Homo sapiens: one gene and its partner. The protein of the gene in region 1 purifies or fractionates together with the protein of each later gene. This does not show direct contact. Each region holds a gene or a part of one and is shown on either strand. Other genes may lie near its edges.

Region 1 (3,803 bases):
AAAGAGGAAAGCAATAAGGTACCACTTCCAGGAGACAAACAGAAGAGCAGAGTGGCACTATGTGTGCTTGGGCCTGTGCCTACATGGGCATAGTTCAGCCTTGCTGATCGTGATTAAAATTCTCTCACCGTGGCTTAGAAAAGAAATAGAACAAAGTGTGTTCTCAGAGTTCCTGAAGACAGTATTCTATGCAAAGTATAACCCATAATAAAATTTGGTTCCACTCCTCTGTAAACCCACATTTCTTTTTTTTTTTTTTGAGATGGAGTTTTGCTCTGTTGCCCAGGCTGGAGAGTAATGGTGCAATCTCGGCTAACTGCAACCTCTGCCCCCCAGGTTCAAAGTATTCTCCTGTCTCAGCCTCCCGAGTACCTGAGATTACAGGCGCCCGCCACCACGCCCAGCTAATTTTTTGTATTTTTAGTACAGACAGGGTTTCACCATGTTGGCCAGGCTGGTCTTGAACCCCTGATCTCAAGTGATCCACCCGCCTTGGCCTCCCAAAGTGCTGGGATTACAGGCGTGAGCCATCATGCCTGGCCTGTAAACCCAGATTTCTAAGTAACACATCTCCTTTTTTTTTTTTTTTTTTTTTTTTTTTTTTTTGAGACAGAGTCTCGCTCTATCACCCAGGCTGGAGTGCAATGGCATGATCTCGGCTCACTGTAGCCTCCACCTCCCAGGTTCAAGCAATTCTCCCGCCTCAGCCTCCTGAGTAGCTGGGATTACAGGCATCCACCATTATGCCTGGCTAATTTTTTTTGTATTTTTGTAGAAATGGGGTTTCACTATGTTGGCCAGACTTGTCTCGAACTCCTGACCTCAGGTGATCCGCCTGCCTCAGCCTCCCAAAGTGCTGGGATTACAGGCGTGAGCCACCGCACCTGGCCCACATCCCCTTTCTCTAAGGTAAATGTGTCTCAGTGGCAAATGTATTGCTAGGTATATGACATTCAATTGCTCTCAGTCTACAGTAAGAGGCACCATGCTACAGCTTATACAGCCCTGTGGGAACTTCAAAGAGAAGCAACACATTTAGACAGAAATTGAGGACTTCTCGGACTCTTCTAGTCTTTTCTTTGGCATTAGAATAGCTTCGGTTTTACTGGTCTAATTACATGAATGTGATCCCTATACATAGACTGCAACAGAATTCTAATTAATTTTTAGCTTCCTATAAAAGTTAATCCAACAGCCAAGACTAAAGTATGTAATGAAAAAAACAGGCTGGGTATGGAGGCTCATGCCTGTAATCCCAGCACTTTGGGAGGCCAAGGTGGGATGACTGCTTGCGTCCAAGATTTCGAGACCAGTCTGGGCAACATAGTGAGACCCTGTCCCTACAAAAAATTAGAAAATAAAAAATTAGCTGGGTGTAGTGCACACGCCTGTGGTCCCAGCAACTTGAGAGGCTGAGGCAAAAAGATCACTTGAGCCAGGAAAGTCAAGGCCATAGTGAGCTGTGATCACGCCACTGCACTCAGCCTGGGTGACAGAGTGAGACCCTATCTCAAAAAATTAAGCAAAAACAAAATAAAACCAAGCATAACCTGCATAGCACTTTGTTATTATTCTATCTCATCCTGAAGTCTGCCATTTCTGTGGCATTCCAACCTTTTTCCTTAGCAGAACCCCAATCACAGCATCAGGAGGGGAATCTCATTAGCCTAATCTCCTCGGCACTCGCACTCTCCTGACCTGAACTGACTTATCAAAGTGAGGGGAAGGACTTACATTCCATGCTTGGGAGGAGTGTTGCTCAATTTCAGTCTCGATCTCTCTCTATATATATCTCTCTTCCTCTACTGCCAGATGTGAACAAGAAAAAAAAAAGCCCTGTTAACAACTGAGAGCTGCCATGTGACCATAATACTTTAGGATAAAACAGACTATGAGGATGGCAGAGTAAAGAGAAAAATCCCTAGTTCTTGAAACAGAATCAACCCTCCTGCCGGCCTAATCTGACTTGTAAAGTGAGCTAATATAGTTCCCTATTGTTTAAGCCAGCTGAGTCAGCTAAAGGTATCCTAAGACACCATGTAACGCCCAAATCCACTAGTGCTATTTCGAAGATTTTGTTTTGTTTTCTTTTCTTTGTTGAGACAGAGTTTCTGTCACCTGGGCTGAAGTGCAGTGGTGCCATCAAGGTTCATTGCAGCCTCAACCTCTCAGGCTCAAGCAATTCTCCCACCTCAGCCTCCCAAGTACCTGGGAGCACAGGTGCCTGCCACCACACCTGGCTAATTTTTGTATTTTTATTAGAGACAATGTTTCACCATGTTGCCCAGGCTGGTCTCAAACTCCTGGGCTCAAGTGATCTACCTACCTTGGCCTCCCAAAGTGCTGGGATTACAGGCATGAGCCACTGCGCCCAGCCTTCAGTCAGTTTTAATACAACTGTAATTTCAACTTGTACTGAATAAAAAGATAAATTTAATTTCAATTTCCTGGAGAAGTGTTGTAAGGGATTGGGCAATATTGTACATGAACCAATAAGGGCAGAAGGGAAGGCAAACAAGTATTAAAGGAAAAGAGGCATGAGACACGGGTATAAAAATTAAATCTTGCACTGTATCCAGCTGTCCCCCATTACTTAAGTCACATCCAGTGTCTATCAAATTCTAAGATGAGCTGAGGATTGCCATTATTCCTTAAAGGTGGGGCCTGGGTCTTGTTCACTATTGCCATGCTAGCACTTAACACAGTGCCTGGCACACGGTAGGTGCTCAATGAATTATAATGATACTAGGTAACACTTATTAAGTACCTAGTATATGCCAGGCACTATGTGAAGCACTTGACATTTATTAACTCATTTAATCCTCACAACAATCCAATGTGGAACCCCTTAGTATCCTATTTTACAGAAGAGAAAACTGAAGCCCAAAGAGGTTAAGTACCTTGCCCAAAGTCACACGACCAAAAAAGGGTAGACTAGTATTTAATCTTGGCCAGTTTAGCTCCAGAGTCTGAGGTCTTAACCAGTATGCTCTTGTAGATGCTTGTTCAAATAATGAGTGAGTAAATACATGACTTTTAAGAAATGAAAAGCAAGTATTTTAAGCCAGAAGACTTTAGCTCCTTACAGTGCAGTTTGTTGCTTCGGCTGTTGAGTGGTTCGGGTCCATTCACATCTTTGCTCTTTTCATTATCCTCAATGGGGCGGAAATGAGCCAAAGTTCGCATGAATCCACGGAAGTTTACCTGGTCCTCTCTGATTGTGAAATATAACAAACACAACACCATGTCAATCACGGTGATTATTTCTTATGAATTAAATATACTGGCAACAGCTTTAGCTACGGTAGCCTGAAAGGTCATTTAATGAGGTTTCTTTCCATACGCATGGTACTTTGGGACTCACAGTACCATATCATTTAAGCCTCACCCCAACCTTGTAAGGCAGGTGCTATTACTCCCACTTTATAAATGATTTAACCAGATTTAGGTAACAGGACTTACCAGGGATAAAGTTATCTATTGAATTTACTTGCATCTGTTTTCCAAAAAATGAATGTAGAGTAGTGCCAGCACTATACAAGACAGCCAGAACTTGAACTCATTGCTTTGAACTCTGCAGCGAGCCACAGGCAGCCCAATGACTCCTCAGCCACCTCCCACATCTCCCCCATCTCCCCTGCAGTAATGTATACCAAGGGATATTTTAAAATTAAGGCACATTATGGAAAGGCCGCTTTTAAAATAAAGTTTATTTAATTTTTAATTTTTCTTATTTATTTATTTATTTTGAGACAGAGTCTTGCTCTGCTTATAAATAAATAAAGTCTTGCTTTATTTATTTA
Region 2 (4,363 bases), on another chromosome or scaffold:
CGGCTGCGGGGTGTGCAGTTCCGGCTCCAAGCGTGGAAAGAGGTCAAGCCAGGCCCTCCAAGCTGATTCCAGATGAAGCCCATATGGATCTGGAAGGAGACTGGGCTGGAAAATGCTCTCCTGGGTTTCGCTGTAAGATGCCTACAGGCCTAAGGCAAAAGGATGTGTCTCCACTTTCAAGAAAAGCTGGGACCGCCTGGGCAGGGGCTGCTGAGCCCAGGCAGCGAGACCCCACGTCCTTCAGGACCGCAGTTCCCCATTCATTTGAAGAGCAGTTTCTGTATTTGTCATTCTCTCAGTACAGTTTGGGGGGTGGTTACAATGTTCAGGGAAATGTTTTAACAGCTCAACTCTGCATCTGAAAAAAGAGGGGCCGTGCTCCCCTGCTGACCCGTTAGAGCGCAGGGCGGCCAGCACTCCCGCAACTGCAGCAAACCCAAGAGTCCCTATGAGGAGGGACCCCAGGAAACTGCTTTTCAATCTCCATCTGCTCCCTGAGGTGGGACGCCGGGTGGGGGCCGGGCCAGGTGACTGCTGCCCTTGTCCCAGCTGCACCTTGCCCTGCCACGCTGGCCGTGCTGCCAAGCGGATGTGAACGCCGCCACCTGACACCCACCTCGCCTGCCCCCGGAGCGTCCCTGGTGACAAGGCTACTTCTGGCACCCAGGGTGGGGCAACCCAGCCCCGCCCAGACACACGCCCCAGTTGGCCTGCGCGCCCCCACGAGTCTCCCCGCAGGGGACCGAGAACACCCTAAGAGCCAGGCTTTCTGCCAGGTGGCCACTGGTCACTCGGGGGCGGTTCCGGCGGCCCTTTGCGTGGCCACCGGCCTGGCACGGGCGCATCCCCGCTGGTTTTACGCCCTTGGGGAGCTGTGGTTCTGCGCGCGGGAGCCTGTGGCTGCCCCGGCAGCGGGGGGAGGGGGCACCGGGCGGGGCAGGAGGCCCAGACCATGGGGGGCAGCGCCAGAGCCCGAGCCACCGGCAAGCCATGATGGGGGGGTCCCCTGGGACCGGGAGGGTGGGAGCAGAGCGCCAGAGCCTCGGTAACCTGGCAGAAGGCTGTGGGGAGGGAGCGTGGAGGGGAGGTCCGGGCCGGGTGACCCAGGGCGGGAAGGGGGGGCCGTGTCGGGGCGGGGTTGGGGACAGTGGCGGGGCGGGGCCTGGTGAGGGGACCGTGTCGGGGCGTTGTTGGGGACAGTGTCGGGGCGGGGCGCCGCACCTAGCCCTTCCCTGCCGCGCGCTCCTCCCCCACGCCGCGCCCCGCCCCGCCCAGCCCCGCCGCCCTCGCAATAAGGGGCCTGAGCGCGCGGGGGAGAAGCGGGAGCGGGAGCGGGAGCGAGCTGGCGGCGCCGTCGGGCGCCGGGCCGGGCCATGGAGCTGTGGCCGTGTCTGGCCGCGGCGCTGCTGTTGCTGCTGCTGCTGGTGCAGCTGAGCCGCGCGGCCGAGTTCTACGCCAAGGTCGCCCTGTACTGCGCGCTGTGCTTCACGGTGTCCGCCGTGGCCTCGCTCGTCTGCCTGCTGCGCCACGGCGGCCGGACGGTGGAGAACATGAGGCAAGGCCGGGGGCCGCCGGGAGGGGCCGGGGAACCGCCGCGCCGCTTCCGCTTCCCTAACTTTCTTCTGGGCTTCCCTCCTTCCTGCCCCGCCCGTCCCGCCCCGCTCCGGGGCTCCGGGGAGAGCGCGCCTGGGCCGGCGGCAGGCACAGGAGGGGGTCCCGGAGTCAGGGGGTCCCGGAGTCACGGGGTCAAGGAGCCGGCGTCACAGTGCCCAGCACCCCACCCCCCGCCCTGGCCCCGGGCGTCTACACCGGTTTCGGCCTCCGCCGCGTCCCTGCAGCCCGGCGTGGGGTTCCGGGGGTGGAGCAGCTTTCGGAGAGAAAGGGGGCCGGTCCGCGCTGGGAGAGGCTCAGCCCTGCTTCCTGAGCGGGGAAACCGAGGCCGGGGCGGCGGGGACTTGCCCCAGGGCTATTGATCAGGGCGCACGACGGCGTGGGGGCACCCCTCGGCCTCCCTCCGACCCCCTCCTGACTGTCCGCCCGGTGATGGGCGCACCTGTGGGGCGGGTTCCCCTTTCTCTCCCTTTCCTCTTCGCAGGGAGGTGGGGGACCCGGAGGGGACCTGCTTCCGTGCTGGGGAGCGCGCCCCTGGCCTACAGCTCCGGGGGCCCAGCTTCCAAGCGAAGGGAAGGAAGAGTTAGGACTAGGGTTCGGCGGGGCTGAAATTTTCCCCTGGACGCCTTCCAGAAGGTGGGAGCTTGGTTTTGCCAGGCTGGGGTTGGGGGCCAGAGGTCAGACTGGGCTGCCAAAGACGGCGGGGGCTGCCTGCTCCTGGGCGGGGTGGCTGCTGGAGAAGGCTCTTGCCTGCCCCCTCTCCCTGTTAGCCGTCCCCAGGCTGTTGCTACATTTCTCCCTGCCCTGTTTGGACTGCCCAGCCAGTGGCTTTTGCAATGGCCTGGGGTGGGGGCATTGTGGCCCCAGAGGCCCCCTTCCCCGTGGTTCCAGGGGCAGTGGGTGAGGGTTTGCTAGCTCCCTGCACTCGCTGTCCTTGCCAGCCCTGGGAGGGCACTGAGGCTGCTGGAACGGGCCTACAGTCATGGCTTCCAACGGAGCCCCAGAAGCTCCAGGAATATGAAGGAGGACCCTGGGCCTGATGGTGAGCATGGAGAGTCCGAGAAGGGCCTGCTGGCTGCTCAGCCAGACGTGTGTGACCAGTGGTGATGTGGGCCAGGTGGCCCAGGCCGGGGTCCCGGGGAGCGCACACTCCAGGGCTGGCCCAGGTGGTGACTGGCGCTGACGTCCCCAGTGGAGCACCCTTCAGCGAGGAAGGCAGTTTGCAGAAACAGGGAGTTCCTGGGGGCTGGGCTCTGGGCACCTGTGCTGGAATCTGTGAAGGCCTCACCTGTGGTTCTGGCCCTGGGATCCCCTGTAGGCAGGGGTCTCTGTGAGGGGCCCCCCTCAGCCCCTGGGGTGCTTCAGAGTAGGGGCGAGGGTGCGGCTTTCCCAGCTGAGGAGGGGCCAGTCTGTGGGTTCCTTGGGGTGCCCCCCACCCCGAGGAAATGGCTTGTGTGGTTCTGATGCCTGCAGGGCATCCTGTGCTGGGCGTGTCCTGGGGTGTGGACAGGGGACGGGGTCCTGTTCTTTTGGCAGAAATGATGGGGCACCTGACTTAGGAGACCCTGGAGCAGACCCCACTACTGAGCCAGGCCACAGGCCACGGGCCTCTTCATCGGCGGCCTCCTCGTGTGAGAAAGCCTGGCTTGTTCTGCAGGGGCCTCTGCCTGGACTTCCTAGCTGTTTTCCAGGGACCAAATCACAGTTCACCTGCTGCCCTTTCTATGGACCTGGCAGGCTGGGTTGGCTGGCACTGGCCCTGCTGCCCCACTGGGCCCTGTCCCCATCTCAGCTTGGAGATTCTGGCTAACCTGGGTGTCCTCGGGACCTGGGGCCTCTGATGGTGCTTGGATGGGACCCTCCTGCCGCCCTCACCTCTCCAGGGCAGCACCCAGGCTCAGGCCTGTGGAGTAGTGGCTTCCGGGACACTGGCTACTAACAGCAGGTGCTTTGTTCCTGCTTTGGTCCCTGAAGAGAAGGGAGGGCCAGAGGGCAGGGCAGTCTGGAGGAGAGGCCTGGGGCTCCATGGCTACCTTCCCCCACACCTCTGCACGTGCTCCCCAGGCCCCAGGGTCCCTGATGACTTCCAAGACTCCCAGCAATGGCTAAGAGTGGGGCTGTTGCGAACGTGCGTTCCCTCCGTGGGGGCCGTCGGGAGGGGTGAGAAAGGCAGATGAAGAGCAGGCGCTTTGTCACTCCAGGGAAGGGACCCGGGGGGCTGGAAGGGAAGGAGGGGATACTCGGCCTCTGTTCCTGCTGTACGCCACGGGTGCCTCCAGCCTCAGGAACAGGGATTCGCGTGTGCTCTGTGTTACAAATAAGGACACTGAGGCTGAGATAAGCAACTTGAAACTGGGGCAGGGTCCCCAAGCCAGGATGGGGTGGAACTGGGGTTCGAACCCACTGACAGTGACTCCAGAGTACCTGCTTTTCCCTTTCCCCTTGTTCCCAGCCCAGCGCTTGGGGCTGGTGAGGCAGCCCTGCGGCAGGCCTGAGCTCTGGGAGGGGCGCTCCATCTTGCCCCTGAGCAATGGCTGCCCTGGCTGAGGCCCAGCCCCTCCCCACGGGGTTCCAGGCGGCACCCAAGAGACCCCCACCGTCTACACCGTAGTTCTGAGCGTGTGAGGGACAGTGATGGGACTAGAACCTCTGAGGCAGCCTTCGTTCCCACCGGGCTTGGGGCTGAGACCACGGACCCCTTCCAGGCAGGGGGTGTCCCCTGAGCCCTTCCCTGTGTGCGCAGTTACGGTGG

What was found.
Region 2: the proteins of CHP1 (region 1) and AGPAT2 purify together in Homo sapiens (co-immunoprecipitation; one large-scale study listed by IntAct). This does not show direct contact.

What each region holds. Positions count from the first base shown.
Region 1 is NC_000015.10:41,262,167-41,265,969, reverse strand, and holds part of CHP1 (calcineurin B homologous protein 1), read right to left. Parts: intron 3,215-3,803; coding exon 3,087-3,214; intron 1,806-3,086; coding exon of another isoform or gene 1,783-1,805; exon of another isoform or gene 1-1,782. UniProt on the Homo sapiens protein: Calcium-binding protein involved in different processes such as regulation of vesicular trafficking, plasma membrane Na(+)/H(+) exchanger and gene transcription. Involved in the constitutive exocytic membrane traffic.
Region 2 is NC_000009.12:136,684,368-136,688,730, reverse strand, and holds the start of AGPAT2 (1-acyl-sn-glycerol-3-phosphate acyltransferase beta), read left to right. Parts: upstream 1-1,273; 5' UTR 1,274-1,373; coding exon 1,374-1,555; intron 1,556-2,534; exon of another isoform or gene 2,535-2,653; intron 2,654-4,363. UniProt on the Homo sapiens protein: Converts 1-acyl-sn-glycerol-3-phosphate (lysophosphatidic acid or LPA) into 1,2-diacyl-sn-glycerol-3-phosphate (phosphatidic acid or PA) by incorporating an acyl moiety at the sn-2 position of the glycerol backbone.